2 separate regions of the Homo sapiens genome follow, and region 1 is linked to region 2. Evidence: fine-mapped expression QTL. A gene starts in region 2. The other region holds a variant in brackets. All regions are shown on one strand. Distances are from middle to middle.

Region 1 (15,259 bases), 65 kb before region 2:
ATTAAGAGTCACAAAGCCATAAAAGTAATCTTTCAAAAAATGAGAATTTTCTACTTTCTAGCATTAAGCTGCATCTGTAAGTATATAAGGGGAGACTGGCAGATGATAGAGCCGGGAGATGACAGTTTCCTATCTGACAGCCACCCTTTGCTGGGTGATTACCCCAATCTTTATTTGGGGGTCCACATCTTCCTTCACAGCTCTGGGTCTATGGAAAACCTGATTCCACCATGGGATTTGGGGCATCAGTATGGCTTTAGCCCCAGTTACTGATTTAAGAGAAGACACGTGGTCCAACTAAGAACTAAGGGGGCTCTGGGAAAAGGCGCTGTTTTTACAAGAACGTCCCCTTCACTCCCTCTGAACCGAGGAAGTGTGGCACCGGAAATTACCGGTGGCTACCATACAACCCTGAAGAAAGGCTGTTTTGGATGAGGCTGACTCCACGTTAGGCAGAGCTGAAGAGAATAAGAAAACAGGGTTCTAGATAAAGTCACCACATCCCTGTGTCAAACCACCTCTGAAGCCTGCCTATCAGTGAGTGAATCAACCTCTTTCATTGTTGCAGCCAATGTGGGTCTAGTTTAATATTCCTGCCACCAAAGACCTCTAGCCCAAAAAGAGGGAAGAAGGGCCAGATGGATTTGGTGAAAGACCCCACTGATTTGGAATCTGAACTTCAAAGGAGATCTTGGCTATTTCTCATCTCTTCTGTTACCTAAGTCTTCTCTATACCTCTCAGAATAGCATTTTAAAATGTCAAAATAAAAGAGCATTTAAGAGAGTCCTGCAATTTTGCATTTCATCAGGAGTCATGGCAGCCCAACTCCTTCCAGCCACAGGGATGGCTGAGAAGCATCTGCAGGAGCTAGAGAGAAAGGTGTACATGGGGACACTGGGGACACCCGGGCATTCCCTGGGTGTGGCCTCTCTGTGTCTTGGCTCCAAGAGCTGTTTGTCTTGGCTTCCCAGAAGAGGCTGACTTTCTGAATGTTTCCTTCCTACTAAAGTGCATTTATTCAGTAATAGTACTCAACCTCTTGTGTGTGTGTGTGTGTGTGTGTGTGTGTGTGTGTTACAACACAAAAGTGAGGACCCCAGTATACTGAGGAAGTCAAGGAATATGATACACTATCCTCGCTGACATTAGCTCCAAGAACAGGCCCTCAATGGGCAGGAAAATTCCAGAAACAACCTCTCTAGTGATTTATTCTTGTTTCTGTGGAGAATTTCCGTTTTGATCCTTTGCTTGGCTCTTAAGGGGAAAAATCCACTTCAAAAGCAGTATTTATCAATGTGAACGTTTTAGATCTCATCTGTGCGGTTCTGCCTAATGGAAGAAAGATTTTGTACTCCTCGACATAATTTTCATATTTGTACTTAACAATCATGTAGCTATTAATAGAAGCAGATGATGTAGAAACAGGAAGTTGAAACGCTTTGATGATAATAAAGCTGAAGGATGACCTTTCGATGGCTAGGAGCATCGTTGGGCAAACATCACAGAGTGAACTTACACAAACCTAGATGGCGTAGCCTACCACACACCCAGGCTGTATAGCACAGCCTATATTGCTCCTAGGCTGTAAACCCGGACAGCATATTACCATACGGAATAATGTAGGCAACGGTAACACAGTGGGAAATATTTGCGCATCTAAACATAGAAACGGTACGTTAAAAACAGGGTATTATAATCTTATGGGACCACTGTCATATATGCAGTCCATTGTTGACTGAAATGCTGTTATGCGGTTCGTGACTGCACTCGCCAGCTATACCACTGTGGCTCCTTAAATCACAGCTAAGGGAGCTTGGTGTCTGCTATTTTTAAAGGAAATGAGAGAACAATTAGTAACTAATGCCCTCCGCAGAACAGCACAGCAATGGGTTTTTCTGCAAATATAATTCAAATAGTTTTGACGCCAGCCAAGTTAGGCCAAACAGGCTTTGACTTGCATAGCAGTGTAGAGCCTCGCCCTACACAGTAGGCATCTTCAGTTAGGCATCTTCCCCTTAGGACTGTGCACGGCTCTCTGTTAGGTATTGCACTGACCCATTTTCCCCAACCCCTGAGATCTGGGCTGTCCCATATGGTAAGCATATGTGGTAAGCACATTTGAATACATTAAAATGAAATACAACTCAGTTCCTCAGTCGCAATGACCACATCTCAAGTGCTCAATAGCTACACGAGGCAAGTGGCTACTGTGCTGGAAAGCACAGATGGAGAGCACTTGCATTGTAGCAGAAAGCTCTATTGGACAGTGCTACCCCAGAGTACACTCGCCCTCTGGCCCAGAAGTTGGGAAGCAAAGCCCCTTCCCCTCTCAAAGGGGCTTGACAGGAGTAAAGAAAAAAATGCCAGGCATCTCAAGGTCACTCCTACTACCCAAGGGCATGTGATGAGAAACCCTGAGCTTGGTTTTACCAGCCAGAAAGCTGATGCAAACAAAGCCCAGATCTCAAGGGTTGGGGAAAAAACCTCAAGTGATTGAGTCATCGTTAACAGCCATTAGGCATCTGCGCTTTTTACCAACCTATGCTGCTTCTCAGAAATCCCACCCTGATTTATCAGAGGCATAGGAAGAGAAAGGCATCCCGCTCCCAGCTCAGCATGCGTCCCGGGTGTTCTGAATGTCAGTGAAGCTGAAACAAAACCCAGGTGAGAAGAACATAGAGACCCAGAGGCTCTTGAGGGAGAGTCCTGGGAAGCAAAGACAGCACCTAGTACCAAGTAGAGAATCCTGTAAATTGGTACTTAATATTCTTAATGAGAAGTATGGAAATATTCTAAATTTGATTGAAGTCCTATTTAACTTTATCTTCTGTATGCTGATCTTAGAGCAGTATCACTGAATGACCTTAGTGATAGATCAAATCACTTACAAAGGAGGGAACATGCCCATGGCCCACCATGACGTCCCAGAGCTTAGTTGTGTTTGGGCATTTTCCCACATTAAAGGTGTGTCCCTAAACAGTGGCTCTGGTGACAAAAAGTGAAACAACTGTCTTCACAGCTGCTGGGGAAAGTTATCAGCTACTCCCTGCCCCACATTAGTGAGAGGCCCTCCTGTTGGTACCCATAGCACGAGGCCCTGGATCACCTCTACACATCTTTCTTGTCGTACATTTGTTGAGAACCCAGAGTCCGCAGAGTGCAAGGCACTGTGTGTCAGCCACAGTGAGGCCCTGGCACTGGGGGACGGGCTGTCTAAACACAGCTCTGACAAACACAATGACATGCAATGGCCCCAAAGCCACAGACAAACCTGAAGCGCTTTAGTGATTCAGGGAGAGAGAAAACTCCGCCAGGGGCAGGCAGGGAAGTTGCACACAGGAGGGAGGAGGTGAACTGACCTTGCGGAATGACAGGATTTGAACAGGTTTAGAGGGAAGGGAGAGCACTCCCAAGAGGCAAAATGGTAGCAGGAGGCAAAGAGACAAGATGAATTCTAAATGTGGGTGTAGAAAGGTCCTTGGCCAGGAAGCCAGTCAGCTCTGGGCTGCAAATATGCACGTCGATGGGGGCCAGACAGGTGACAGAAATGGAGCAGGCTGAGGGGCTATACAGTAGAGTGAGGAGTGCAGCAAACTGGAGAAAACATGGCCTGAGGGAAAGCAGCAGGGAACACGCCATTCCCACCTCCTGTCACCTTCTAGGAATATGTGCTCAGTGCTGCTGGATTTTCTACGTTTTCAGGAATAACTGAAAATAGAGTTTTTTAATGTAAAAAAATTCCAATTTTTAAAGCTGTCCGTCAACTTCTTAAAATATTGTGTAGGATAAACAAAACCCATTGGCCCATAGGCTGCCGGTTCCCCTTGTCCTGCAGAGACTGTCACACTGAAGGCTCCATGGCTCCAGAACAAGACAGGGGAATGACAGAAGGAAGAGATGGCCCCACTGCGGAGCCCGGGATAACAGGGAGGAGGCAGGAGGCTGTGGGAATGTCATGTATCAGGTGCGAAGCAACAGGGCTTGAAGATGATCCTGGCAAAAATAAGATTTTAAAATAGTGATAATAGGGAGGAATAAACAGATGGAGTTTGGAGATGAACTGGATGAGGGATCGGGGGAAAGAAAAGGTAAAGATAAGATCCAGGTTCTGAGGCTGAGAGGTTTTGGAGAAGGACAGTAATGACGGGAGCACACCGGGGCTCTGAAGACACCTCACAAACCAACACACAGTGTAGGCTTGGCCATCACCAGCCCCCTTGCCCCAACTTGCAAGCAGCAGTGGGACTCCGCATTGCCACTGCACTGGGAAGCGCTGCAGAACCTGGCGCTGGGCATGCCACGGATGAAGCTCAGAACAGGCTCAGGTACCAGGATGCAGAAATGCAAGCAAAGCAGGGTCCTGAAACACAGCTGGCCCGCAGTGACAACACACACACACACACAAATATATACACAAACATACACAAATATATACACAGACATACACACACATGAATACACACAATCCACACCACTCATACACACACATGCACACACACATACACAAACATATACACATACACACAGATGAATACACTCCACACCATTCATACACTCACATCCACACACACACACACACAAATATATACACAAACATACACACACATGAATATAAACACTCCACACTACTCACTCACATGCATGCACACACAAATATATATACAAACATACACACACGAATACACACACTCCACACTACTCATACGCTCACATGCACACACACACACACAAATACATACACAAACATACACTCCATGTGAATACACACATGGATGAATACACAAACATGAATACACACACTCCACACCACTCACATGCATACACACACACAAATATATACACAAACATACACACAGATGAATACACACACTCCACACCATTCATACACTCACATCCACACACACAAACACATACACAAACATACACACACATGAATACACCCATTCCACACCACTCATACACTCACATGCACACATACACACATACACAAATAAACACACAGATATATACACACACTTCTAACTAGCCAGAAAGTTTACACTGTCAGCCCTGTCTGATGTCACATTAGCTTTTAAAAAATATAAACGTTCACCCCTGCCCACAGCAGTGAAGGGAGCAGGCAGGAATGTTCAAGCTAAAACCTCACCTGAAGATGGATCATGGTCTCCAAGCTCTAGGAGACATAGCTTGGCAGCTTCCTGGAAATGACTGTGGCTAACAGCTCTCATCCGTCTCCATTTCAAAATAGGGATGGCAACGTAACACGGGATTAAACTCCTGTGCAAATTGTGGCAGCTGATGGAGAAACGTGGGGTGGCAGGGGTGGGGAGTGGCAAATGTCAGCTTATTATGGCCTGTTCAAACACTCATCTGAACAATAGCCACAATTTCTTATAGCTCATCTTTCTATAGGCCTATGGGAGCAAACTGGCATAGGAAGCGTATAAAAAGAACTGAATCCTTGGGACTATGTGAGCTGTCTATGAAAACATTTACATCTCATGTTTTCATTGTAATGACAATCCAAAATAATTCCTGTAAGCAAGCACAGTCTAAGAATAGTCTGGACAGCCGTGCTATAACCACGCTGTGCCGGGCTGCTCTGTGTTTACACATTGGCATCAAGCAGAATTATGTTAATTGTTGTGGCTAATGAGAAAAAAGCCACAGGGTAGATTTAATATATAAATGACTCATTCACGCCAAGTGAAGCCAAACGCTATCACTCAAAGGACACTGAGAGACGGCAATCTGTACCTAATTCCAGTGACAAAAGGAGTGAAGCCAGCCATCACAGCAAAGGGATGTTGTGCATTTGAGTTTCATTAGCTGGTACTTTATGTTTAATTTGCAATTTGGATGTGATTTTTATAACCATAGCATAAGGAATTTATACCCAGTTTTAAGTGGTATGTATTTAAATAATATAACATTAAATATTTAAATCAGCCCTGGAATCTGCAAAAAAAAATGTTCCCACTTAACAAGGGGCCCAACCTACCCTATGACACATCACTATATAATGTCAGAACACTGGGGATAAAGGGAGGATCCTGGAAGCTTTCAGAAGAAAACCAGGCCACACATGGAAGATAGAGAATTAATGTCAGTGGGTTTCCCTATAGCAACAGAGCATGGAAGCCAACAGCAAATATTCCAGAAACCCGAGAGGAAACCATTTCCACCCTCAAGGCCTACATCCTCCCTGCTATGGTTTGGATGTGGTTTGACCCCTCCGAAACTCAGGGTGAATTTGGTCCCCAGGGCAACAGTACTGAGTGAGAGGTAATGGGAACCTTCAGAGGTGATTAGGTCATGGGGGCACACCCTCATGCGTGCATTAACACTGTTCTCTAGAGACTGAGTTGGTTCTCATGAGGCGCTGGTTGTTATAAAGTGGATCAGCCCCCTTTGCCCCATCTCTTTTTTCAAGCGCTTGCCTGCCCTTCCAGTTTTCTGCCATGCTATTACACGGGATGAACGCTGTCACCAGAAGCCAACCAGAT[A/G]TGACCCCTCGACCTTGAACTTCCCAGGCCTTGAGGTTGGAAATTGGTTCCTCTTGGGATTCTGGAATCCCTGCTCTTGGCTTCCATTGGGAAGCCTGCTGACATTGATTATCTTCCTCCAGAACTAAAAGAAATAAATTTATTTTCTGTATACATTACCCAGTCTGTAGTCTTCTGTCACAGCAACAGAAAATGAACTAAGACATTCTCAGACTATCTATCAAGAGTAGAGAAAAAACCATAGACATTTTAAGACATATTAGGTCTTACATCTTCATGTATTTATCCTGTTTTGGGAAGGAGTGCTCCAGAAAAATAGAGAAATAAACTTTGATTTTCTTATATCCTCTACAGTTGTGGCTCATGAAGGCCAGAGGGCATGTCCCCAAATCCAGATTGAGGAAGGTACATGGGATGCCGGAGTGAAGAACGAAACAGATGGAGGCTTGACAAGCTGGGGAGCACGCAAGGCATGGAGATGAGCTTGCCTGATGCGAATCGAGGGCCCAGCCCCACCGGGCACCCATCTGCACAGGTGGCCAGGCCATTTAGAGTGGCTGGGGTAGGATGGCCTCACCTTGGGCCTTAGACAGAAGTAGCATGGGTAAACAAGCATATGCCTTTCCAGTGGGATCCTATATTACCAGTATTTCCCTAATACACATTTGTTTTTAAAGTTAAACCAATGGCTAAAGCTTGCTTAGAGCCAGAGAGCAAAGTCCTCCCAAAGCCCTTTTTAAAAACATCAAAATAGGCCGGGCACAGTGGCTCACACCTGTAATCCCAGCACTTTGGGAGATCGAGGCAGGCAGATCATGAGGTCTGGAGCTCAAGAACAGCCTGACCAACGTGTTGAAACCCTGTCTCTACTAAAAATACAAAAATTAGACGAGGATAGTGGCATGTGCCTGTAATCCCAGCTACTCAGGAGGCTGAGGCAGGAGAATCGCAGGAACTCGGGAGGCAGAGGTTTCAATGAGCCGAGATCATGCCATTGCACTCTAGCCCGGACAACAGAGCGAGACTCTGTCGCAAAAAAAAAACAAAAACAGAAACAAACAAAAAAAAACATCAAAATAGCCTGACTGAACCTGACTCCATTGACTCCATGGTGAAGTGAAGGAATGTTTTACATAATATTTACAGGAATCGCCTTTCTTGTCACCCAGGAGAGCAGGTCCTGACCTACCTATATCCTACGAAGGTTCACTTCTGGGGCACTGACGCAGATGCAAATGACAGCTGCGGCAGAGAGGAGAGCTCCCGGCAGGGACCATCCTCATGCCCCGTGTAGAACGCCTCCCTTTCCTCCTGCTCATGAAGACACATTCCAACACAAGTGAACAGGAGTGGCATTGTCTCACAAATCAACACTGTAAAACAAATACCAGTGCTCACACATGAAGATGCACATCACGGGTTACGTCAGATTATTCTAGAACTAGGCACATCTACATCAGGATCTCAGAACACCAGGCAAACCCCTGCAGCACCGATTTACTGAGCACCTACTACCTGCCAGGCACTGTCCTAGATGCCAGGGTTAAGGAATAAACAATTGACAAAAATATTTGCTCTCGTGGGGATTAAACTCTAATGGGGGAAGACAGACAATAAACAAATAAGTACAATACGTACAGTGGCAAAGATTGATAAATATTTTGCAGAAAAATTAGGCAGGGGAGACAGGGAGTATGGGGGCTGGAATTTTAAGTCAGGCAGTGACAGGGTAAGGCTCAGCGAGAAAGGTATCTGATTAAAGACACAGCATCAAGGGAAAACACGTAATGCCAGGCTGTGTCTAAGAAGCTGCCAGGAGCCCGGGGTCACTGTATCAGAGTTGGGGCCATGGTGGGGGAAGGGACAGAGCATGTGGAGACTCAGAGGCCCCTGTAAAGCCTCTGACTTGTACCGTGAGCAAGAGAAAAGCCATTGATGGGTTCTCATTCTTTCAGAGGCATGATGGGTTATGGTTTACCTGTTAGAAAGGAGGGCATACGCGAAAAGACCAGTTAAGAGGCCACAGAAATAAGCTGGGAAGAGATGACACTGGCTTTAACTAGGGAGTAGCATGATATATATATTTCTTTTTCTTTTTTATTTCCATTATTTTTTTTTTTTTTTGAGACGGAGGCTCATTCTGTCGCCCAGGATGGAGTGTAGTGGTGCTATCTCGGCTCACTGCAATCTCCACCTCCCAAGTTCAAGGGATTCTCCTGCTCAGCCTCCCAAGTAGCTGAGATTACAGGTGCCTGCCACCACACCCAGCTAATTTTTGTATTTTCAGTAGAGACGGGGTATCACCATGTTGGCCAGACTTGTCTCAAACTCCTGACATCAAGTGATCCGCCCACCTCAGCCTCCCAAGCATGATATATATATTTTGTTCTTACAAACGAACTCTTATCTGGGTCACTGCTGATCCAAACCTCAGAGAGCAAACTGGTATCTCAAGAGCTCCATCAGGTACTGTAGTTGGGTGAGCCATTTAGCACTTTGCAAGATCACAAGTACCAAGCTCACACCTATGCAACAGCAGCAGCAGGCCAGTGTGATGGGTGTGTGAGCCACTGACGATGCAGACCAGGTGGTAAGAGAAGTACCCAGGGGCTGTTGGTCCCAGAAGTTCAGTGAGGCTGCTAGACACTGACTAAGCCCAGGCTGAACTGCCTGGGGGCGGCGGCAAAGCAACAAGGAACTAGGCTGAGGAGGTCTTTTCTAGGTCCTGAACCCACCCACCAGGCAGGTTTCTCTTTCCCACCCACCAGGGAAGTTGCCAGTATCACTGGCACCCAGGGCAGGCTTAGTTCGTGCCCCCAAATCTCTCCCCTACATTTAGCAATTCATTTTAGCAAAAATGACTATCTCTGGAGAGATTATCAAAGTGCTCCAGACACAGTTTAACAAAAAAAAAAAAAAGACTCTGAGTTGGAGCAGAGGTTGTGTTCTATGCCCAGCCTTGATCTCAAAGGGCTCAAGAGGCCACTTCCTCCTGCAATGGGAGGACCCTAGGGAGTCTGGTGAACAGAGCACAGCATGGGAAGAAAGCGACTGAAGCCTCCGACTTCCCGTGTATGCCCCAGGCTGCCCTGCTTCTCAGCACAGAGTCGGTCCCTTGGGTAGGGGCCAAGTGGTGTTGTGCCCAGAGCATGGAGTTTGGAGAGAAGCAGACCCAGGTTTCAGTTTCATCTCTGCCTCTGACAACCCGTGAGAGCTGGGGCAGGGTAACGCATCCCCTAACCCTTAGTTCCCACACCTGTAAAATGGGGACTGCTAGCTAATTCTCGGGGCTGGATAGAAATCGGGCACAATCATGCCCACGCACGTTGTGCAAACTCAACAAATGGTGACAGGACCTCAGTGGGTGCTAAGTTGACTGGGCACATCCGATTCCTCTTCAAATAAATAAATATTCCATGTAAATGTCTCTTCCAGGGAATCGTGTACTCCTGATGCCTGAAAATCGTTAAGTGAAGACTTATCACATTACCGATTTGTTCAAAACCACAGCATTCAAAGAGAAAAAAAGAAAAGAAAATGTCAGCAAAAAAACCCAGATGCAGAGCTTCCTGGAGACAATCACACTTTGCTCTGCTTATGAACACTAAACACGCACAGCTGGTTGTTAACAATGCCCCCGTGACGAGAAAGTCGGCAGGTTGGTCCTCGTAAGACGAGTGAAAATAAGTGACGGCTGAGACAGTTGCTAAAGATGGCAAGGACAATCTTCTAAGCCGTGGCATAAACGAGGACACTGAGAACACCTTGAAAGCACTGGACACAGTGGCCAGGCGGCCGCCACCCTCACGGCTCCTGTGCCGACAGCAGCCTCTCTTCTCAGGGCCCTTCTTTCTCCGTGCAGCACCTACATGAAGATCCCCGGAAGGGAGAGGAACACCATGCGGAAGCTACAGGCTTGGCACTGGTCCTGGGCTACAGGCAATGGATAAGAAGACTGGGAAAGAATAAAGGAAGGGCTGGCGCCACCCAAGGACAGAGCAGCAGCAGTCCAGCCTGTCTCTAAGAAGTCACACCTGTCTACGTCTTGCTTGCCATTAATTTAGGGATTGAGCCTGAGCTGTCTCTGATAGAAGATGGTCCACATCCAGATTTGCAGTGGAAAGGCTTAGGGCCAAGCAGAATTCTCTTAGACTGGAAACACTCAAATTACCCGATGATGGAATAAAAGCAGTGGGCAGAAGCCCGTTCTAGCCAATTCTTGGAGAGAAGACGGTTCCCCTGCACTATCAACTGCTCATGACTGAGGCATTCGGGGTTGCTGCAGTGTTAGATTTCCTAACACAGAACACGAAATCCAGACCGTTTCACCTCCTGCCTCGGGAAGGCTCCTAGATCAGCAATGGCCAAATATGTCCAGTACGGGCAGGTGCACAGAAGCCTGAGAAGATGATACGGAAAAGCCGCTTGGAAGACACTGAGAGGAAATTGTGAATCCCATCGCAAGGCCTCCAGCCGGTGAGCAGACACACTGCACTTGGAGTATAAAAGACCATTGCTGATATGGGCCATCAAGCATGAAAAGACACGAAGGACCTTAAATGCAGATCCATAAGTGAATGAAGCCAAAATGGAAAGTTGCCATACGCATGATTCCAACTACAGGACGTTCTGGAAAAGACTAAAATATGGAGATAGTAAAACCATCAGGGATTGCCAGGGGCCAATGAGGAAAGAGAGATGACTAAGGCAGAGCACAGGGCAATTTTCAGGCCAGAAAACCTGTGTGATCTTATAAGGGTGCATCTATATCATCACACATTTGCCAAAACCCAATTAGAGGAAAATGACACACAACCCCAGAACCCACAGGATGTACAACACAAAGAGTGAGTCTGAATGGAAATGATGAGCTTTAGCTAATAATAATGTAGCAAGATTGTCTCAGCAATTGTAACCAAGATACAACACTAATGCAAGATGTTAAGAAAAAGGACAACCGGACTGGAGGGAGGAGAAAGAAAGGGGTAGATGAGAATTCTCTGTGTTTTTGGCTCAATTTTTCTGTAAATCTAAAATGCTTTTAAAAAATTAAGTGATTAAATTAAAACAAAACAAAACAAAAGACCAAGACTAATGTGTTGGTGGTGGCTGAACCCAGGAAGGTGAGGGCCAGGCCTTCCTGTGACTGGCTCTGCTGGTTCTTCTTACAGCCGAGGGCTGGGCAAAAGGTCCAGGTGTGAGTCATACAATGACCTTCAGCCAACTGAGGCACACCCAGGTCCTCAGCTTCAGCCCTGAGACCAGGCCAGGCTGTGTGGGAGGGCACCATGGGGACCCTCCCAGAGAAGAGCCTGCAGGGCTGTCCCGGCGGCAAAGGAGCGGCAAAGTCGGCCGAAGCTTCTTCTGCCCAATGGGGACTCCAGCTCCTGGTTGAGAGGAGCCAGGGTTGCTGCTGACAAGACACGGGCCTGCCCCAAACCTAAGAACGGCAAGGGTGCCAATGAGAAAGGGACAAACCTAAGAACAGCAAGGGTGCCAATGAGAGAGGGAGAAGCAAAGCCAGACACCAGGACAGCCTGAGGCAAGGAGGTGTGGGCTTGATCTGGGAAAAGCCAGCCGGAGCCAGGCAGTGCCTCTTCCGTGGGACCCAGCCTGCGTGACAGAGTGGGGGTACAGGGGAGGGACACAGAGATTAACAGAGACTCAAGGCTGGCAAGCCTTGTTGTGGGGTGGGCACCCACCAGGGATGTTCTGCATGAGGATGAGAAACTTGCTAGAACATTCCTTGCACTACCTTCCTCACACCACACAGCAGAGAGGCGAGAGAGGAGCTCACGCTTGATGCAAGGCTACACCAGGGTCAGAGGGCAGGCCCCCGGGGCACACAGGCTCAGCTGCCTTTGGTCTTAGGGAATGAGGCCAGTCCAAAATAAAAAGTCATTTAACCAGAGCTGCCTTGTGAAATGAGCAGAGCAAAGGGCATGCTTCTTTGTAAATTATTACCATAATCGTTTACCTGTAATGCATGTTTATGCAGGCAATGTGACGGTTCATGGAATACTTCACTCCTGACCCCTCCTCTCCCTGTCGCCACCATCCAATCCATCACCATAACTGTCAATTCTATGGCTTACCGTCTCCTGAACCTGCACTTTGTACCACCTCCACTGCCCCCCTAGTGAAAGCTAAATCATCTTTTGCATAAGCTATAGCAGGAGCCTCTTAACTGGCTTCCATAAACTCACCCTCATGCCTCCGCCATCCCAGTTTCCACTCTGTAGCCAGAGTAGCAACTTTAAGAACACAGATCTGTCATTCACCAGCTTAGAACTCACGGGTGGCTTCCTACCAGTCTTAGGACCAACAGTCTTACCTCTGCCTGGAAGGCTTCCCCTGCTGGGCTCCCGGCCTCCTCTCCATTCAATGCCTCACCCCAACTCCCTGAGCTCTAACTCCGCTGGTCTCCTCCGATCCCTCAGGACACTCCCCAGCCAGGCCTCCACAGGGCCTTTGCACGTGCTGGGTGCATGTGTAGGACACTCTTCTTGTTATCTCGTGTCAGCCATCACTTCCTAAAGCAAAATGTCTTCGCCAGACTTGTGATGAGGTCAACCTCCCAGCCCTGGAAACTTAGAATGCCCTGCACCTCTCTTTCGCTGCACTTTCCACACTCTTCCAATTCACATTTCTCAGTCTGCCTCCCCATACTGGAGGACCAAGAGCAGTGCCTGGGATAGCGCCTGACACATGACCCCGATAATCATTTTGTAAATAAAATAACAAACAATTCCCTGAGGTGAGTATTATCATCATCTCTATTTACAGATGGAATGTCTGAGTATCCTGCCCAATAGGGCCGATCGCTTCCTTAGTTCCAAACCTGGACAATCTGACCTCAAAATGTATGGCCCCTACAACTTGTGCTATGTGCCTTTCAGGATGCAGCATGGCTGGGGAATGATTTCTCCCTTTTGACTTCCGTGACTTTTGGAGCAGCAAGGGAGGAGAGCAGAGCCCTTCAGACATGCGGCTCCAGGCACCCAACACATTCAAGCCCTGGTATCCACAGCCAGCTGGAGCCCAGGAAACTCCATGGAAACTTAGAGGATGACGACAGCTTTCACACACTCAGGGGACCACACTCCTTGTGAGGCAGATATGAATGGATTCAGGCTCTCAGTGAAGACTTGGAGGAAAGAAGCAAGTTTGGGAGTAACTAGCCATTTCTGGAGAACATGTTAATCCCCCAGCTGGAGGTCTGGGCCTCTCCTGTTACAAATGTAGGGGATATGGCTGCTTCTAATCTTGCTCTTCTGCAGACCTGTTACAGAGGAGGCCACAGCTGCACCTAGGGGTGTGTCCAAAGGGAAGAGAGCCAGGGGCAGGGCCATGAGACGCATCACTGTGTCTCCTGCTCCAGTCTCTGCTCAGCAGTGGAAAAGGAGCACTCCCCAGACTGAGAACAGGAGCTGGCTGGTTCACCTTAGGGTGAGGACAAACCTAAGTCTGCAGACTTGGTTAAGGAAGGGTTGGATGCAAGATCACAAGGGAGGGAGAAAAGGGAGCTGTCCCAGAGAGGCGAGTAATTCGGACCCCGGCACCATGAGGGGTAGCCGAGACTACTGCCAATCTCCAGGGCTCAAATAGAGTCTATTTAAAATCCTGTACTTCAGAAAGTTAACTGGTTTTTCATTGTACATCCTACAGGTATGTGTGTATGTGTGTGTTGTGTGTGTGTGTGTTGTGTACATGTGTGTGTATGTGTGTGTGTATATATATATATCCTATAAAAGCCCTCAAATATTAATATATCAACTGGTTTCAATAATGCTACCAAAAATGTAAGGTGTTCTTCAAGATTAATGTTAAAGAGTACCAAGGGGATTACACGAGGTGTGACAAAAATTAAAGTGTGAAGCACCCCAGGTGTAAGAAAGTGGAAATGACACAGAGTTACCTTCCTCGTTGTTTATTCCCCACTTGGAAAATCCATTTCCAGAGCGTATCTGACTTAGTCCATCTGCACTGCTCTAACAAAATACAAAAGGCTGGGTAATGTATAAAGAACAGATTTTTTTTTTTTTTAGAGACAGGCTCTCGCTCTGTCACCCAGGCTATAATACAGTGGCACAATCATAGCTCACTGTAACCTTGAACTCCTGGGCTCCAGCGATCCTCCTGCCTCAACCTACTGAGGAGCTAGAACTGCAGATGCGTGCCACTAAGCCTGGCTAATGTTAAAAATTTTGCAGAGATGGCATCTCACTATATTGCCCAGATTGGTCTTGAACTCCTGGGCTCAAGCAATTCTCCCACTTTAGCCTCCAAAGAGCTGGGATTACAGGTGTGAGACACCATGCCTGACCATGAACAGAAATTTTTTTCTTGGTTCTGGAGTCCAAGATGAAGAGGCTGGTGGGTTTATTGTGTGGTGAGGACTAGGTGTCTGCTTCCAAGATGATGCCTCCTTGCTGCACCCTCCAGAACACAGTGTCCTCACACAGATCAGAGGAAGGTGAAATGGAATGCTGCATGAAGCCTCTTTCACAGGGGCCTTGATCTCATTCATGAGGGAGGAGCTCTCAGAGCCTAATCACCTCTTAAAGGGCCACCTCTTAATATTATCATTTTAGCCATTAAATTTCAACACCTGAATTTTGGAGGGGACACATTCGAATGATAGCCGTGCCTCAGCTGAAAGCCTGTTCTTTTTCAAGTTATGATTCACATTCATAAAATACCTGCCCCAGAATCACCCCCATGAACTTGTAAAAATGCAGATTCCTGAGAA
Region 2 (15,259 bases):
TGACCCTAAAGTAACCCTATACTCTTCTCCAAATTATTGCACCAAATAGATGTGAATACCTTGTTTTCTTCACCCCTTTCCTCTGTCTCCATCATAGAGAATAACCAACAGTTAGTGGCAGCTTGTGGCTCCAATAACAACACTGACATGCTATGTCCTAAGTACTATGCTTGGTGTCTCACCAATCAGTCCTCCTGACAGCCCTGCAAAGGCACCAGGATGATTTCCTTCAACATACAGAGAAAGTAGCCGGGCGCAGTGGCTCACACCTGTAATCCCAACACTTTGGAAGGCTGAGGCTGACGGATCACTTAAGCCCAGGAATTCGAGACCAGCCTGGCCAACACAGTGAAACCTTGTCTCCACAAAAAAAAAAAAAAAAAAAAAAAGAAAAAAAAAAATTAGGTGGGAGGATCACTTGAGCCTGGGTGGTCAACGATGCAATGAGCCGTGATAGCCCCACTGCACTCTAGCTAGCCTGGGCAACAGGAGTCAGACTGTCTGAAATATACACACACATACACACACACACACACACACACACATATGTATGGAGAAAGTGAGGCTCAGAGGGGTGAAGGAAATTGCCTAATCACATATACCCACTGAATGACAGGGCCACATGTGAATTCAGGTTCATCGCACTTCAAAGCACACATTGTAACCACTGCTTCCACCCCGCATTTCCCTAACCACTGTTCCAAAGGGAATGTGTTAAGCAGTTTTCTTTCCTTCCTTTGGCAATTTAGAATTCTTTTATCTACTGACTTTTTTTTTTCTTTTTATTTGAGGCAGGCTGTTGCCCAGGCTGGAGTACAGTGGTGTGATCTTGGTTCACTGCAGCCTTAACCTCCCCGGGCTCAGGTGATCCTCCCACCTCAGCCTCCTGAGAAGCAGGGACCACCAGCGCATGCCACCATCTTTGGCTAATTTTTGTATTTTTTGTAGAGACGGAGTTTCATCATATTCCTCAGGCTGGTCTCCAACTCCTGGCCTCAAGCGATCCGTCAGTGCTGGGATTACAGGCTAGAGCCACCATGCCTGGCTTTATCCACTGACTTTTTGCATGTGTAATTTATTCCTTAGTAGTTGACAGGTTGAGTTTATGGAGTTCAGGGGGTTTTGTTGTTGTTTAAAAGCCTGTCCTCAAATACCTGAACAAATGGTGATTTACCAAACAATCCACAAGACGAGTTCTAAGTAGCAGTTTCTACCTTCCAGCTTGAGCGCTAATAAAGTAGCAAAGCCGGCTGATGTGATACTGTACCTGGAAAAGTCTGTGGAAATCCAGGATCTGCATGTAAAAGGAGAGGCCTCATCCAGGTGCAAGAACTAACCCGCTAACAGTGGTGTCCTCCACATGCACTCACAGTCCATTTACAAGGTATAACAGCAGCATCTGGGAACAGGCAAACCATGGGGTTCACATAGGTGCCAGGCTCTGCCCTGTCTCAGGAGGCAGGACAGGCCATTTGTTAAGGTGTGCCTGACTCCCTGGCCACAGCCTTGTTCTGTCACATCCCAGCTGAGAGTCCTGGGGCAACTTCTTAACTTCCCTGTGCCTGATTCCACCTCCACAAAATGGGGGTCTCAGAGTTGTTGCCAAGATTACATGAACCTTGCCTAGTACGTGCTAAGTACTCGGCCAGTGTCTGCTAACTCTATTACACATGTTTAGGCTTCTCCCTTTCAGAAGCAGTACTTTTAAAATTGCAGGTCACAACTCATAAATGCATTATGAAACAAATTTAGAAAAATAAAATCATTTTTCAGAAAGTGAGGAATAAAACATGGTATTTAAACACTAATGACGTTATGTTTCAGATTACTTTTATAATATTTTTCCTTAGCATACAGTAAGATTAAGTGGTACCCTATGACTCTCTGTTTCTCTGTATCCATGTGTCAGGCAGCAATCTATATATCCAGATGTATCAGGCAGCAATCAACAGGGTATTTCTTTCTGTGTCACCACCATCTCTCAGAAGACAGTTTTTATAAAATGGGGGTAATGGGGAGTCAGGGAAGACTGAAAGGTATAATAAGTCAGGAACCATTTTATAAAAAGCAGACACTGGAAGCAAAGGGAAAGACCTACTAAGGTGACAGTCAGAACAACACAGCAAGTACCCAAGGTACACAAGCCTGTTTATGGCTAGGATGCTACGGGCATTGCAATCATCTGAGCTTAGCAACATGTTTTTATTTCCAAAGCAAATTGAATTGCAAAACTGGAAGTACAGATGTTATCTTGATGCTGGGCAAACTTGGAAATATTCATATGACTTATCCAGTAAGTCATCTTGCAGTACTTGTTAAAGTAGATATTATGCCAGATTTCAAATGCTCTTAAAAACCACCAGGGTTGGCTGGGCGCGGTGGCTCATGCCTGTAATCCCAGCACTTTGGGAGGCTGAGGCAGTCGGATCATGAGATCAGGAGTTCGAGACCAGCCTGGCCAACATAGTGAAACCCTGTCTCTACTAAAAATACAAAAATTAGCCGGGCATGGTGGCACGCATCTGCAGCCCCAGCTACTCAGGAGGCAGAAGCAGGAGAATCGTTTGAACCCAGGAGGCGGAGGTTGCAGTGAGCTGAGATTGCGCCACTGCACTCTAGCCTAGGCCACAGAGAAAGACTTCATCTCAAAAAAACAAAAACAAAACAAAACAAAAAAAACCCACCAGGGTTTGGAAGAGATTAAAAAAAAAAAAAAAAGGTCTTTAAACAGAAATCCTTAAATGTGGATGTAGATGTAGATTTAGTCTAATGGTTACATTATAATCAAATTCCTAGCTGAAAATGTACCTGTATAAGCCTTCCCAAGAGAAGATGAGATGGAAAAGAACTATAAGCACATAACAAATCATTTTGGAATCCAATAAAAGCACTTATCTACGTATTCAAAAGGCTATTTGACGTGGTATTTTACAGTGCTGCCCTTAGACTGGGTAAGAGGGGACCACATCTCCGGGCCCCACTCCTGCCATAACCTGTCTTCCTGAAGACTTCCTAGGACAAAGTGGACACATCTATCCAGAACCAGTGCCCCTCCACTTGGTTTTAGTCTGTGATCCGGGTCCCCAGAATTCCCTTCTCAAATCCCAAGTAGCTTCTAGGGCATGAACAAGCTCCTCCCAGATCTGTTCTGGCCTAGGGGGACATCACCACTGGTGTGTGCAGAGGCATCATGGTCAAGGAGTGGCAGGTGCATACCAAGACTGGGCGTGCGAGTGGACACAGTGTCCTTTACCAGGTGGGACTGTACCAAGGATGGGAAGCAAAAGGGAAGAAACCCAGGCCAGGGCAGTCTCCTAACTGCATTTCAGTTCATGACTCTGGGAAGTAACATTTTGAATTCAAAATGCAAACCTAGACTTCAAGGTCATTATGAAGATGTAGCTGTCAAGATCAGTGGACAGAAGAAATTTTATACAAATGTTGTTAGTTTAACTCATAAGTTTTAAACATTTAGACAGATGTCTTGTAGACCTACATTTGCTCTCTTGCACGGTACAGACAGGCCTCATGGGTATACAGTGGACTCAGATTCCAGACTGGGTTCATCCTCAACCCCAACCCACCCACCAGCTACATGAGCTTGAAGCAGCCTTTTAATCCTCTCTGAGTCTTCACTTCTTTATTTACATTTAAACAAGGATAAAAAGAACATCTTCTTTATAGGGTTGTTATGAAGACTAAATGAATTAGCCCAAAGTACCTAGAAGAGCACCTAGTCACCTAGTAGGTAGGTAATAAATTCCCCTATGACATTATTCTCATACAAAACTGATTAGTCACTGCACACTTCCAGAAAAAAACACAGACAGAAAGTGGTTCTGTGTATTTCTTCTTTCCTCTTCCTCTTTCTAAATACATCACTTTACACTGCTCCAAAAGATTATTTTCTATTCTGAAAAGGTCAAGTCATCTGATTCCTAACCTGCTTGGGTCAAGTTCTTCTGAAATTAAAGATGTGTTCATATTCTACCCCAACTCAGCAGATAACTCAAGCCTTTGGCAGGTTTGAGGTTTGAAGGCTGGGAAATTGGCTGTGTCACTTTCATGGGCTAAACATTTGAAAGAATTACCACTTTTAAGTATAAAAAGGACATTTCCTAATCTTCGTATGCATGAAGTTCGGAGCTGTAAGCTAGGGTGCGTCCTTCTTGATTCACAAACCAGAGGCTGAAATACTTGAAGCTATCAACAAAGAAAGGTTACTCAACAAGAGAACCCAATGCTAAAAATAGAGCACTATCAGCAGAGAAATAGATGCAAAGAGACAAGCCTTTATTTGGCTACTTATTTGCCCATGTTTCTTTATTATTAAATGGAGGTACACCACCAGCATAGTGATTACAAATTGCCAACAACCTAATTATTTCTCTTCCTTCAGCCTACAATGACTGAACAAACAACTTGAAGAAAAATACTTGCCACGTTAATGACATGCAGGCAGCATATAGAGCATCTTGAATTATTTCACCACAAAAACCTCCCTTTCAAATGTCTAGCTGTTTGCTACGGGTTGAAGATTTAAAACCCAAGAAGAAAAGTACAATACAAGGAAAAGATTCAAGCTCATGTTTACCCTTTAAAATATATACCTAACCTACATGTTCCACACAGGAAACAATCAAACCTCCATTTTTTCTAATTATTCTGAAGTATTTTTTAAATATATTGTTTATCAGGCTACTCAGTGGGTAGAGCTCTTTCTAGCTTCCCAATCTAAGCCTAATTAGTCTCCCACAAAAAGAACCATGCTGGTGCACTGTTAATTTCAACAATGCTTTTTCTATTAATTCGAATCTTTTCCAAATCCCAAATGGAGAAAAAAAAAACAGTATGAAATAAATGAAAATTAACTGGATTCTACAGAGGCAGGACTGAGCACATCCACTCATCCAACAGTAATCCCATCTACATCAAATAATGTTTCTTTACAGAGTTTTGCCAACTTCCTATAAAAATCTCATGAATACTTCTTATGTTTGCCAGTTTTTATTTATGCAATTAAATTAGCTTTTTGTAAGAGCTGGACTGGAGAAACAACACATTTTTACAACCCCATTAGTCATACAGTCAAGCTTCATTATATTATAATCATTTATCAGTAGTCAGTAACGAGTATGCTGTTTTCTTGTGCAATGAGGGTGTTTAAGAAAACGTGTCTTCACAACAGGCCATGAAATGTGTCAAATACAGAACACCCGACATTAGTGGTAAAGCCTGTGAGTTCATCTGGTTGTCATCTCTGTTGAAGAGCACAACAGTTGAATGAACACAAACCTAGCTTTAGCTTAGAAGCCACATTCTTAATTATTAACCCCTTCATGCTTCCACCCTTTCCAAACTCCACTCCCTTAAGAGGAGGTCACTTCATTTAGAATTAATAACTGTTATTCAAGATGCTCATGAGAGATCATTTTGGCTTCAGTCGTTTTGCTGCAGTTTATTCTACATATTTCTCCCTAAATCAAATGTATACACGTCCCTGAGACTTGTGTATGACCTTAGTCCCTGGACCTTGGGAAGTCACGATGTCGTGGAGGAGAGGGGAGCTGGGAGCCTGAAGCTGACAGATCCCGGGATCCCGCAGGCCCCCCGCAGGGCTCCCGCCCTTCCACCGAGGCACCCGTCGAGGTTGCCCCAGATGCTCATTCTGCGCCCATCAATGGGAGTAACTGAGCTTAGAGAGGAAAAACTACGGCTTCAACAAAGCACAACGTGTGCAGCTCTGATAATGCAGGGCGGAATTATGGAGACACCGTCGGGGCTGGCTGGAAAGCGGAAAGCGTTCCATCTCAGGATTTTCACGGGGAATTTCAAGAACCAAGGGGGCCTCTGAGATCCCCAGAACCTCTCCTTTCCACGAGGCAGCTTCCTTCCTTCCCTGCTCGTTCTCCACAAAAATCAGGGCTGCCCGGATCCCAGCAGTGAGCGCTGCTCTCTTTGGCTGCTGTATCCCCAACCGCTGCTGAGGCGCAGCTGGAGTGAGCCCCTCCGAGCCCCGCTTTGCGCAGCTGCAGCTGGAGCCCAGAGGCGCCCGGAGCTCGGAGAAAAGCACTGTGCTCCGCGGGACCCAACCCTCCCCACGGCCACCAAGGGGGCCCGCAGATCCCCGGGCACCGGCAGCCGAACCCAGACAGGGGCGTCCCAACCGCTGAGCCCGACGCCAGAGGGCACCGCGGGGGAGAGAAGGCGCCGCGCCTCGCTCCTGGCACTTGGTCCCCGGGAGTCAGGGACATGCGCGCCCCGGAGCTGGAGCCCGGGAAAATTACTGCGCGGGCACAGAGGAGCTAGAGAGGTCCCCGACCCTCCCAGCCCCGCGCCCAGGTACCTCGCAGCCGTAGAGCTGACCCAGCTGCTCCACGATCCATTCCTCCAGCACCAGCCGCTTCCGAAGCTCCTTACGATCGTATTTCACTGTCACTTTTCCCTGCTGGTGTCGCCGCTGCTGTTGCTGCTGAACCTGCCCTGCAGCGGCCGCCGTGGCCACGGGCGCCGAGTCCTCCCGGGAGGAGCCTGAGCCGCTGCTGGAGCCGGGGCTGCCACCGGCGCCACCCCGGGGGCTTTGGAAGAAAACCCGTGCGCCGCCGCCGCTGGCCCCGCCGGCCGTCTCGCTGCTGCCCGTCGCCACCGACATGTCCCCGCGCGCCCGAGCCTCAGTGCGGCCCGGAGGAGGGGCGGGCGGAGCGCGCCCGGCGCCGCTACCACCTCCGGCCCGGCAGCCGCATGCGAAGGGCTCCCCGGCACCTGCTCTGCGCCGCGCGCGCCCAGCCGCCCGGCTGCTCTGGGAGGGCGGGAGGAGCCGCGGCGAGAGGGAGGAGGGCGGGGAGGACGACGGGGCGGGGACCGCAGCCTTAAAGAAGCCGCCGAGGACCCTCTCGGTCCAGCCCCCAGAGGCGGGATCTGGCGCCTGCGGCAGAGAGGGCCCGGGGCGTGGGAGTCTCCGCGGGGCGGGAAATGTGTGCGCCTAGACACGGGAGGTCGCCGATGTGTAGACTCCGGAAGGACGGGCGTGGGGCGGGGTGCCAGGGGATGCTCCTGCGCGGGTGTCCGTGGCCTCTAGTCTCGGAGACAGGGACTCACGCTTCTCCCGCAATCCCGGAGCGCAGGAAACGCGCCGCCTCTCGGGGCCTCCACCTGGCGCGGCCCCGGGCAGGACCCGCAGCGAAGGGGACACAGGAAAGGACCGCGCCGCAGGCTCCCCCAGGAGGTTTTCCTAGCCCCACCGTCTCCTCTGTTGGCTGGGTAGCGTCCCCTCCCCTCCAGCCCCGCCCCACGGCTCCAAACACACATTCCTATTCATGCCACGATGGATGCCACTTCCTCTCTGGATTGTGAGAAACATCGAAGAGGCGATGTTTGTGCAATAAGGCAGTCACGGCGCTTGAGAAATTATTTCCAGACCAATGTTTTCTTTCCTTACTAAGCGTCTGCTTAATCATGGGCACAGCATTCGGATATCTTCGTATCCAAAGGGCAGAAAGCGTGACGGCGCTCAGGCAAGGCGTCTGGGGGCATCCAGACAGTAAACATTTCTCTAAGAGGGTCGGCGACAGGGTCCTGGTTTCACATTTCTAGTGTTGCGTCCCGTGCACTGCCAGCTTTCTCTCCATCCCATTCCAAACAGCCCCTTCCACCCAGGAGGGCAACAGCACTGCCTGACTCTACTGCAAAACATCACAGCCTAGTAGTTACACATGAAGGAGCTTCTCAGAAGGGTTAGGACAATAAGGTGGGGAGGGAAGTTGTAAACAGAAAACTGCATGTGTAAAATTAGGGAGACACTAACATATTCTTCTTGTACACAACAATACATTCCTGTTCAGGAACTGATAGAAACCACAGAGACGTCCGAATGAATACAAGTAAGCGGCTTTTAGTAACGGTTTTGTTTTGTTTTGTTTTTTGAGACGGAGTCTCTCTGTTGCCCAGGCTGGGGAGCAGTGGCGAGATCTCGGCTCACTGCAACCTCTGACTTCGGGGTTCAAGCGATTCTCCTGCCTCACCCTCCTGAAGAGCTGGGATTACAGGCTTTCGCCACCACACCAAGCTAATTTTTGTATTTTTAGTAGAGACAGGGTTTCACCATGTTGGTCATTCTGGTCTCGAACTCCTGACCTCATGATCCGCCCGCCTGGGCCTCCCAAAGTGCTGGGATTACAGGTGTGAGCCACCGCGCCTGGCCATGAACTTTTTTTGTTTGTTTGTTGTTGTTGTTGTTTTTAAATAAAAGAGCCCTAAAGGTTACTGGCAGCTACTCAAAGAAGTTTCTCAGAGATAAAATAGATACCAAGTCAAATTCCTCGGAACACTTTCCTATGATGGAGAAGATCCTGTGTGGGGTTCTAGACTGACACTACAAAGACAAAATAAAAGTAACCAGCAGGTTTCTCCTGGCGCTTCAGGCTCTGCGATCCACCAGCGCCCAGCTCTGCTCTACCCAGGCTTAGGATCCATTGCCTTTGTACCCTCAGTCTGGGGTTTTCCAGTGAGAGCCTGAATAGGGATTTTCCCAAAGTGTTCCATGCCTGCGGCTCTTCACAGGGACATGTCAAGCCTCACAATGTGAAGGGGAAGGATCTGCGGAGATTGAAATAGGGTGGCTGGTGTGGGGCCCTGGACTCCTGCCATAATTACAAAGGGGTCAAAGCTGAACGATCTCTGCCCCGCTAGAAGAGGCCAGCTGCCCTTTAGAAGATGGGTTTTGCACCGAGCCTATCAGGGACAAGGGAGATGAATTACCTTGATTGCCCCTAGAGACCGATGACCAGTCTCTGCACCACCTCTGCCCCTCTGCCTTTAGGGTGGGTCACTGTAAACCCCGAACACACAGCCAAGAGAGTGACCACCTCAAAATGGAACTCTGTCTGCAAGGAGGAAGGGAAAGGAGGGCAGGAACCAGCCCCAGCATCTCCCACACAGAATCAGCTTATATGGCTCCAGACATCTGGCCAAGTCCGCTAGCACCAGCTTTGACCAACTGCACTAATCAGGAGAATGCAAATCAGAACGAAAACAGCTTAAATGTTATTAACAAAGGAGAAACTACATAAAATCTCTACCTCATTCTGGCCCTGGGACCTGACAATACCTATTGTGCCATCCCACAGTTTGGCAAAGTCTGGGGAATTCCAACTCCTTTCTTTAAGTCTTTGGACAACGAAATCAGTCATTCAAGGATAACGTCAAATAATTTTAAAAAATTCACTAAGTTCTTTCTGAGAAATTCTGATGTCAATTTTTTTCTCACAGCATAAGATGCTTTTTCCTTTATGCTTAAAACTCAATTTTCCCTTACAACTCCAAAATGACAGATACTAAAAGACATGGGTTTTAAGCATCTTGACTCACAGAAGAAAATCCAGGAAATAGTCTCTTTCCACAGGTACGCTGGCCTTCAGATGTTCAAGTGAGTCACCTTGACTGGCAAATAGAATTGAACCAGGGTTCCTCTTTCTTTAAATCCATTTGCTCCACCCAGTACGTAATTTATATTCAAAGTGAAGTCCATATCATCTCCTCTACCCCCAGACACACACACTTCATTCCAGGTTTGAATAATCAAAACTTAATGGCCTCATTTTGACAGATAGAAATACTGCTTTTGCAGATTTCAAATATTGAAGCCAAAATATTTAGGAATAAAGGAATTTTTCCTAGTCCAGAGACCCTTTACATAGCTGACTATTTAAATTCGGCAAAACCAGTGGTATTTCTCATCTACAAAACCAATAATATATACATTTATTCAAGGAAAACATTTTTATTTCTAGCCTATTTAGTCAAGTGTTTTTAGGTGCTGGTTAATCTAAGACAGTGAATAGCTTTCAGTGAATTGAATGGTCCGGAATCAACTTTTACCTGAAGGCAATTACTCCCTGCTATGAGAGGGCAGCCTAAGGATGTTTCATTTGAATCTTTTTCTTCGTAGTTTTGTGTTTTCTTAGCTTGGTTATGTTTTACTTGCTTCCCAAATTGGACAAAGTTTTTTGTTTGTTTGTTTAGGAATTATATAGGTCCTTTATCTCTGAATATGATCTTTATGCCCAAAGGTTGTTAGACAGGATGGATGACTTAATCAGGAGTCCTGGAACTTTTGTCACCCCCCAGGAAAATAATTAAATACACATGTTTATACTCAGATGCAAATTTCCTTAAACGGCACAATAATTATGCAACACCTGGTAATCTACTTTGACAATGTTATAATTGCATCCTGGAGACCCACAAACCTGAACATAATCTTCTTATCTTGAGTAATAAATGTCAAATGATAAGATGCCTATATCCGAATCCTCTCCAAGATTTGATGAAGCAAAAAGACAAATTAAAAATTATTTTCAGTCTGGTTTTCATTATAAATGTTGAAGAAACTTAATCTGTCTTTCAGGATTCCATTGGTTACCCACAGCATTTTCCATTTTCATTCCAATATTTCATTGTTCTTTACAGAGTGATAACAGCACAGCTGTTGACAGTATATCAGTGAAGTTTTTCTTTTGGCTACTGTTTCACTCTCCACTTTTTCTCCTTCTAATTCTGGACCTTTGATTGTATCAGGCTGGGATCAATTTAGGATCGTAATTCCAAAATAATTTGGCCGTTGCTTGCATTAAAAAAAAAAAAAGCAACAGCAATCATTGTTGCAAGTCTAAAATTTTGTCTCAAAAACTAACGTAAGTTCTCACCTCACTGTTCAGACATGATGAAAAATGGGTGAAAAAAAAACCATAGCTTTGTCCATCCCTTTAAACAAAAATTACATACCTCTGCCCATTTCAGTAAGCCTAACATGTGGGGTATATTGTCTCCTTCTGAAAAACTAGGTTCAAATTTGTTTCTAGAGGAGCAAATTATCCTCCCTTCTAGCCAATGGCCTCTTGTGCTCCTCGCTTTTACCACCAAACATTCTGGAGGAAGTGTCCCTTCCCCCACGTCTCTAGGTCTTCCCATCTCATCGTGGAGCCCTGCGCCCTCACTGAGGTCACCAGCCAGCTCTGTGTTGCTCAAGCACAGGTGCGCGTTTCAGCGCTTATATAACTTGACCTTCTGCCACATTTAACAATCTTGAACCTTTCCTCACTATTCAAACTCTCTCCTGTCTTGGCTCCAGGTACCAACACCCTCCTGATTTTCCTCCTACCTCTTTATCTATTGCATTACAGTGAGTGTTTTTTGTGGGCTCTTTTTCCTACACCCCTGCCCTCAAGGTAGGTGGTTCCCAAGTTCTGCCCTGGGCTCTTTCCTTACTCATTCACAGCCTCCCCAGGTGCTTTTGCTAGAGCTCCAACTTCCTGCAGCTTTGACTCCCACCTACCTGCCACAGACCCCTCAAATCATTACCTCAAGCAGATCTACGGCCAGAGCTTTAGATCTGCAGCATACCACATACAGTGCCAATGCACTCCACAATTATCTTTATATTTAAAGTATATCAGTACATAGCTACAGCAATTCATGAGAAAACAAAACATTACAGTAATTACTGTACTGTAATTACAGTACAGTAATGTTACTGTGCTGGGTGGCCAGCACAGTAAATAGTACTCAAGCCCAATGTTTTTCAAACATTTTTTTAACTACAAACCACAATAAATACATTTTATGTCATGACCCATATATATATCCACACACATACACTTACCCATTGTATTAGTCTGTTCTCACACTGCTGTAAAGATACTACCTGAGACTGGGTAATTTGTAAAGGAAATGGGTTTAACTGACTCACAGTTCCGCATAACTGGGGAGGCCTCAGGAAACTTACAATCGTGGCAGAAGGGGAAGCAGGCACCTTCTTCACAAGGCAGCAGGAGAGAGAATGAGAGAAGGAGGAACTTGCCAAACACTTATAAAACCATCAGATCTTGTGAGAACTCAATCACTATCACAAGAACAGCATGGGGTGAACCACCCCCACGTACCAATCACCTCCCACCAGGTTCCTCCCTCAACACCCAAGGATTACAATTCAAGATGAGATTTGGGTGGGGCACAAAGCCAAACCATATCACCCATATTTCATGTGATACACTCTGACACTTCCTACTCAATCTACTCTGTGTCTTTATGTTTAAAGAATGCTGGTCCCAGCATACTAAAGTTAGTCCTAACCCACTAAAGGATTGCAACTCATTCTTGCAAAAAGCCCACTGTTCAAACCACTGCTGGCAGCCATCAGTGCACCTATGAACATGAATCCTGGTTCTCCTTCATCTTAATGGCACACTCCAGGGTGGTTATTGATACGTTTGACATTCTGGGTTTTTTTCTTTTTAATTTTTTTTTTTTTTGAGACAGGGTCTTGCTTTGTCACCTAATCTGGAGTACAGTGGCTTGATCATAGCCCACTGCAGCCTCTAACTCCCAGGCTAAAGTGATCCTCCACCTCCCAGCCTCCCAAAGTGCTAGAAGATGCAGGCCACAATGCCTGGCTAAATTTTTTGTTTTGTAGTTTTTGCTTTTTGCTTTTAGTAGAGATAGGGTCTCCCTATAATGCCCAGGCTGGTCTGGAACTTCTGGACTCAAGCAATTCTCCTACCTCGGCCTCCCAAGTGCTGGAATTACAGGTGTGAGCCTCCATGCCCAGCACCCCAGGCATTCTCAATGTACCATTATTAAGTTTTTCAGAGTTCTGGTGAAGAACTTTGACCCCAAATGGCTGACCAAGGGCACGTGTGTGACCTCCTGGAGGTGCCACAGAAGAACCAAAGAGAAAGCATATTCTTGACATTAAGAGGCACCTTGGCTGGGCCTCCAGCCTCCCTTAGGAAATGCCCTCCAGAGTGCCCAGAGGGTGAAGATGAGAAGACAGCAACTGGGAGAGCCTCCAGCTTGAGAACAAGTGTATTGTGGTCACCAGCACAAACCCAGATCTCAGCTGCCTGGATCAAATTCACTCTCTGCCACTGAAGTACGGGGTGACCTTGGCAAGTTACTGAATCTCTCTGTACCTCCACTTCTCCATCTGCAGCATGATCAGTGGTGCTTGTGTGTGCGTGTGTGTGGGAGGGCTGAGTGAGTTACTGGAATAAAGCACCTAGGACAATGCCTGCTGTTATCTGCAGAGGGACCAAAAACACAGAAGGGAGGACTGGCTCACCATGGTTCCAGCAATTTCCCAAAGGAATTATGGCCAAGGACACACCGTGACTTCAGGAATGGGAAGAGAACAGCAGAAACCATCTCCATGGGGGTCCTGCTCCAACTCTCTATGCAGCAAATTCATTATTGCTCCTATCAACAAGCCCCAATAAATGGGAGGTAAACACCTATGTCCAACTGCTTACTCAGGGGCACCAACACCTAGATGACTGCAGTCACCTCAAATTTAAAGCAACTCAAGTGGAAATTACCATTGCTATGATCTGAATGTATCTCCCAAAATTCATCTGTAGAAACCTAATCACCAATGTGATCGTACTAAGAGAGAGGCCTTTAGGAGTTGACTAAGCCATGAGGACAGAGTCCTCATAAGTGGATTGGTGCCCTTGTTAAAGAGGCACAAAGGAGCTGCCTCTCCCCTTTTGCCCTTTCATCCTTTCTGCCTCATGAGGACACAGCGAGAAGGCCCTCACAAGACAGAAAATGCCAGCACCTTGACATTGGACTTCCCAACCTCCAGAACCATAAGGAAATAAATGTCTGTTCTTCACAAATCACCCAGTTTGTGGTATTTTCTTATAGCAGCACAAAGGGACTAAGACACCCATCTGCCCAGGCTGAACGTGCTCCTTACCTCCCTGACAAAGCTCTCCCTGACGTCCCTAGTTTTAGGGAGGTGTCCCCCTCATGCTTCTTATTGGCCACCACCCCTGGCTCTATCATATCACCCACCAAACCTGTGTGGGATCTGGTCTCTGCTCAAATGTTCCCTCCACAGATCTTCTCCCTGCACCCTCTATGTTCCTGCCCTCTTTATTTCTCTTTCTCGCTCTTATGACAGCTTGGAAACTATATATGCCTTTGTTCATTGTCTTACTCTCCCGACAGAAGGCAAATTTCATGAGGACAGGATGTCAGTGTTCACCTCAGTATCTCCACTTCCTAAAACGGTGTGAGACAAATAGTAGTACCTAGTGGACAGAAGGAGGCTGTCATCTGTCCCTCCCATTAGATTGCAAACTCCTGAAGACCAGAATGCAGCTAATTGGGTTATATTTTTAGGAAGAAGAATGATGTTTAGCACATAGCAGGTGCCCCCAAATTAGTGAATAAGTGAGACCATCTTCACTTGTAGCTGCACACATTTCTTAAGTCTACAATACAAATATACAAAAATATAGATCTGTTTCCTCTCTCCCCAATATAGATCCAATCTGGGGGTGGTGGTGATTTTAAATCACAGGAAGTCACACTTTTGCTGTCTACCAAGATGCTCCTGTGGGTTTTACTATGTTTCCATAGTAAACAAAAGGACAATAGTCACCAATTCCTCCAGGGCCCTACTCATGAGCAGAATCTCAGCCAGATGCAGTGGCTCACACATGTAATCCTAGCACTTTGGGAGGCCAATGTGGGAGGATCACTTGAGCTCAGCAGTTCAAGTACAGCCTGGGCAACATAGCAAGACCTCACTTCTACTAAAAAAAAAAGATTGTTTTTATTATCTGGGCAGGGCGGTACCCGGGAAAATGAGGCTTCGGTGAGCTGTGATTGTGCCACTGCACTGCACTCCAGCCTGGGTGACAAAGTGAGACTCTATCTCAAAAAAAAATAAAAATAAAAATAAAATCTCTAATCACCTTTTCCTCCAGTATTTGGTTTCAGCTTTCAATACCTTGTGAGTTTGAGCCACTCGAAATAGTGGCTGAGGAACCAGGTGTAAAATGAAATGGTAATTCCAGCTCTACTCTCACCTGGCTGTGAGCAGTCATTCTCAGATCTGCAAAAGTTGGAATGATTCTGAAGGCTCCTGCCTAAGGGCATCTGTAGTGAAGGACTAATTTTGCTGTTTTGCAGTTCATTGTGAAGAAGGGCGTGGTCCTAGAGCGCAACATTAATGTGTGGCCTCTGCCTCCTGCAACTCACCATGTGAGTCTACAACACTCAGGCTGGTCTGAGCCCTGTTCTGTGAGACTAGTTTATACCATTGGTCTCATGACAATGTCACATTTCTTTAAAACTTTCTGAATACCTACTCTCCATTTATGAGCTTACCTCACCATGGACCAATTGTAAACCACTCACCAACTGGCAGCAGTTCAGGACGCACTCTCTGGAAAGCACTGTGCTAAAAGTCTCA

Evidence for each region. PIP is the estimated chance that this variant, and not a neighbour inherited with it, causes the effect.
Region 1: its variant is fine-mapped to the expression of PPP1R14C in visceral fat (GTEx, PIP 0.95).

The regions. Positions count from the first base shown.
Region 1 is chr6:150,199,164-150,214,422 of GRCh38, reverse strand. All of the region lies in intron 1 of PPP1R14C (protein phosphatase 1 regulatory inhibitor subunit 14C), which reads right to left. Among named protein-coding and RNA genes, the nearest start is that of PPP1R14C, 64 kb to the right of the region's middle. The variant A/G (reference allele first, on the strand shown) is at 6,508.
Region 2 is chr6:150,134,586-150,149,844 of GRCh38, reverse strand. PPP1R14C (protein phosphatase 1 regulatory inhibitor subunit 14C) reads right to left here and starts at 6,801. Exons shown (of 4, transcript NM_030949.3): 1 at 6,347-6,801. The coding sequence starts at 6,652.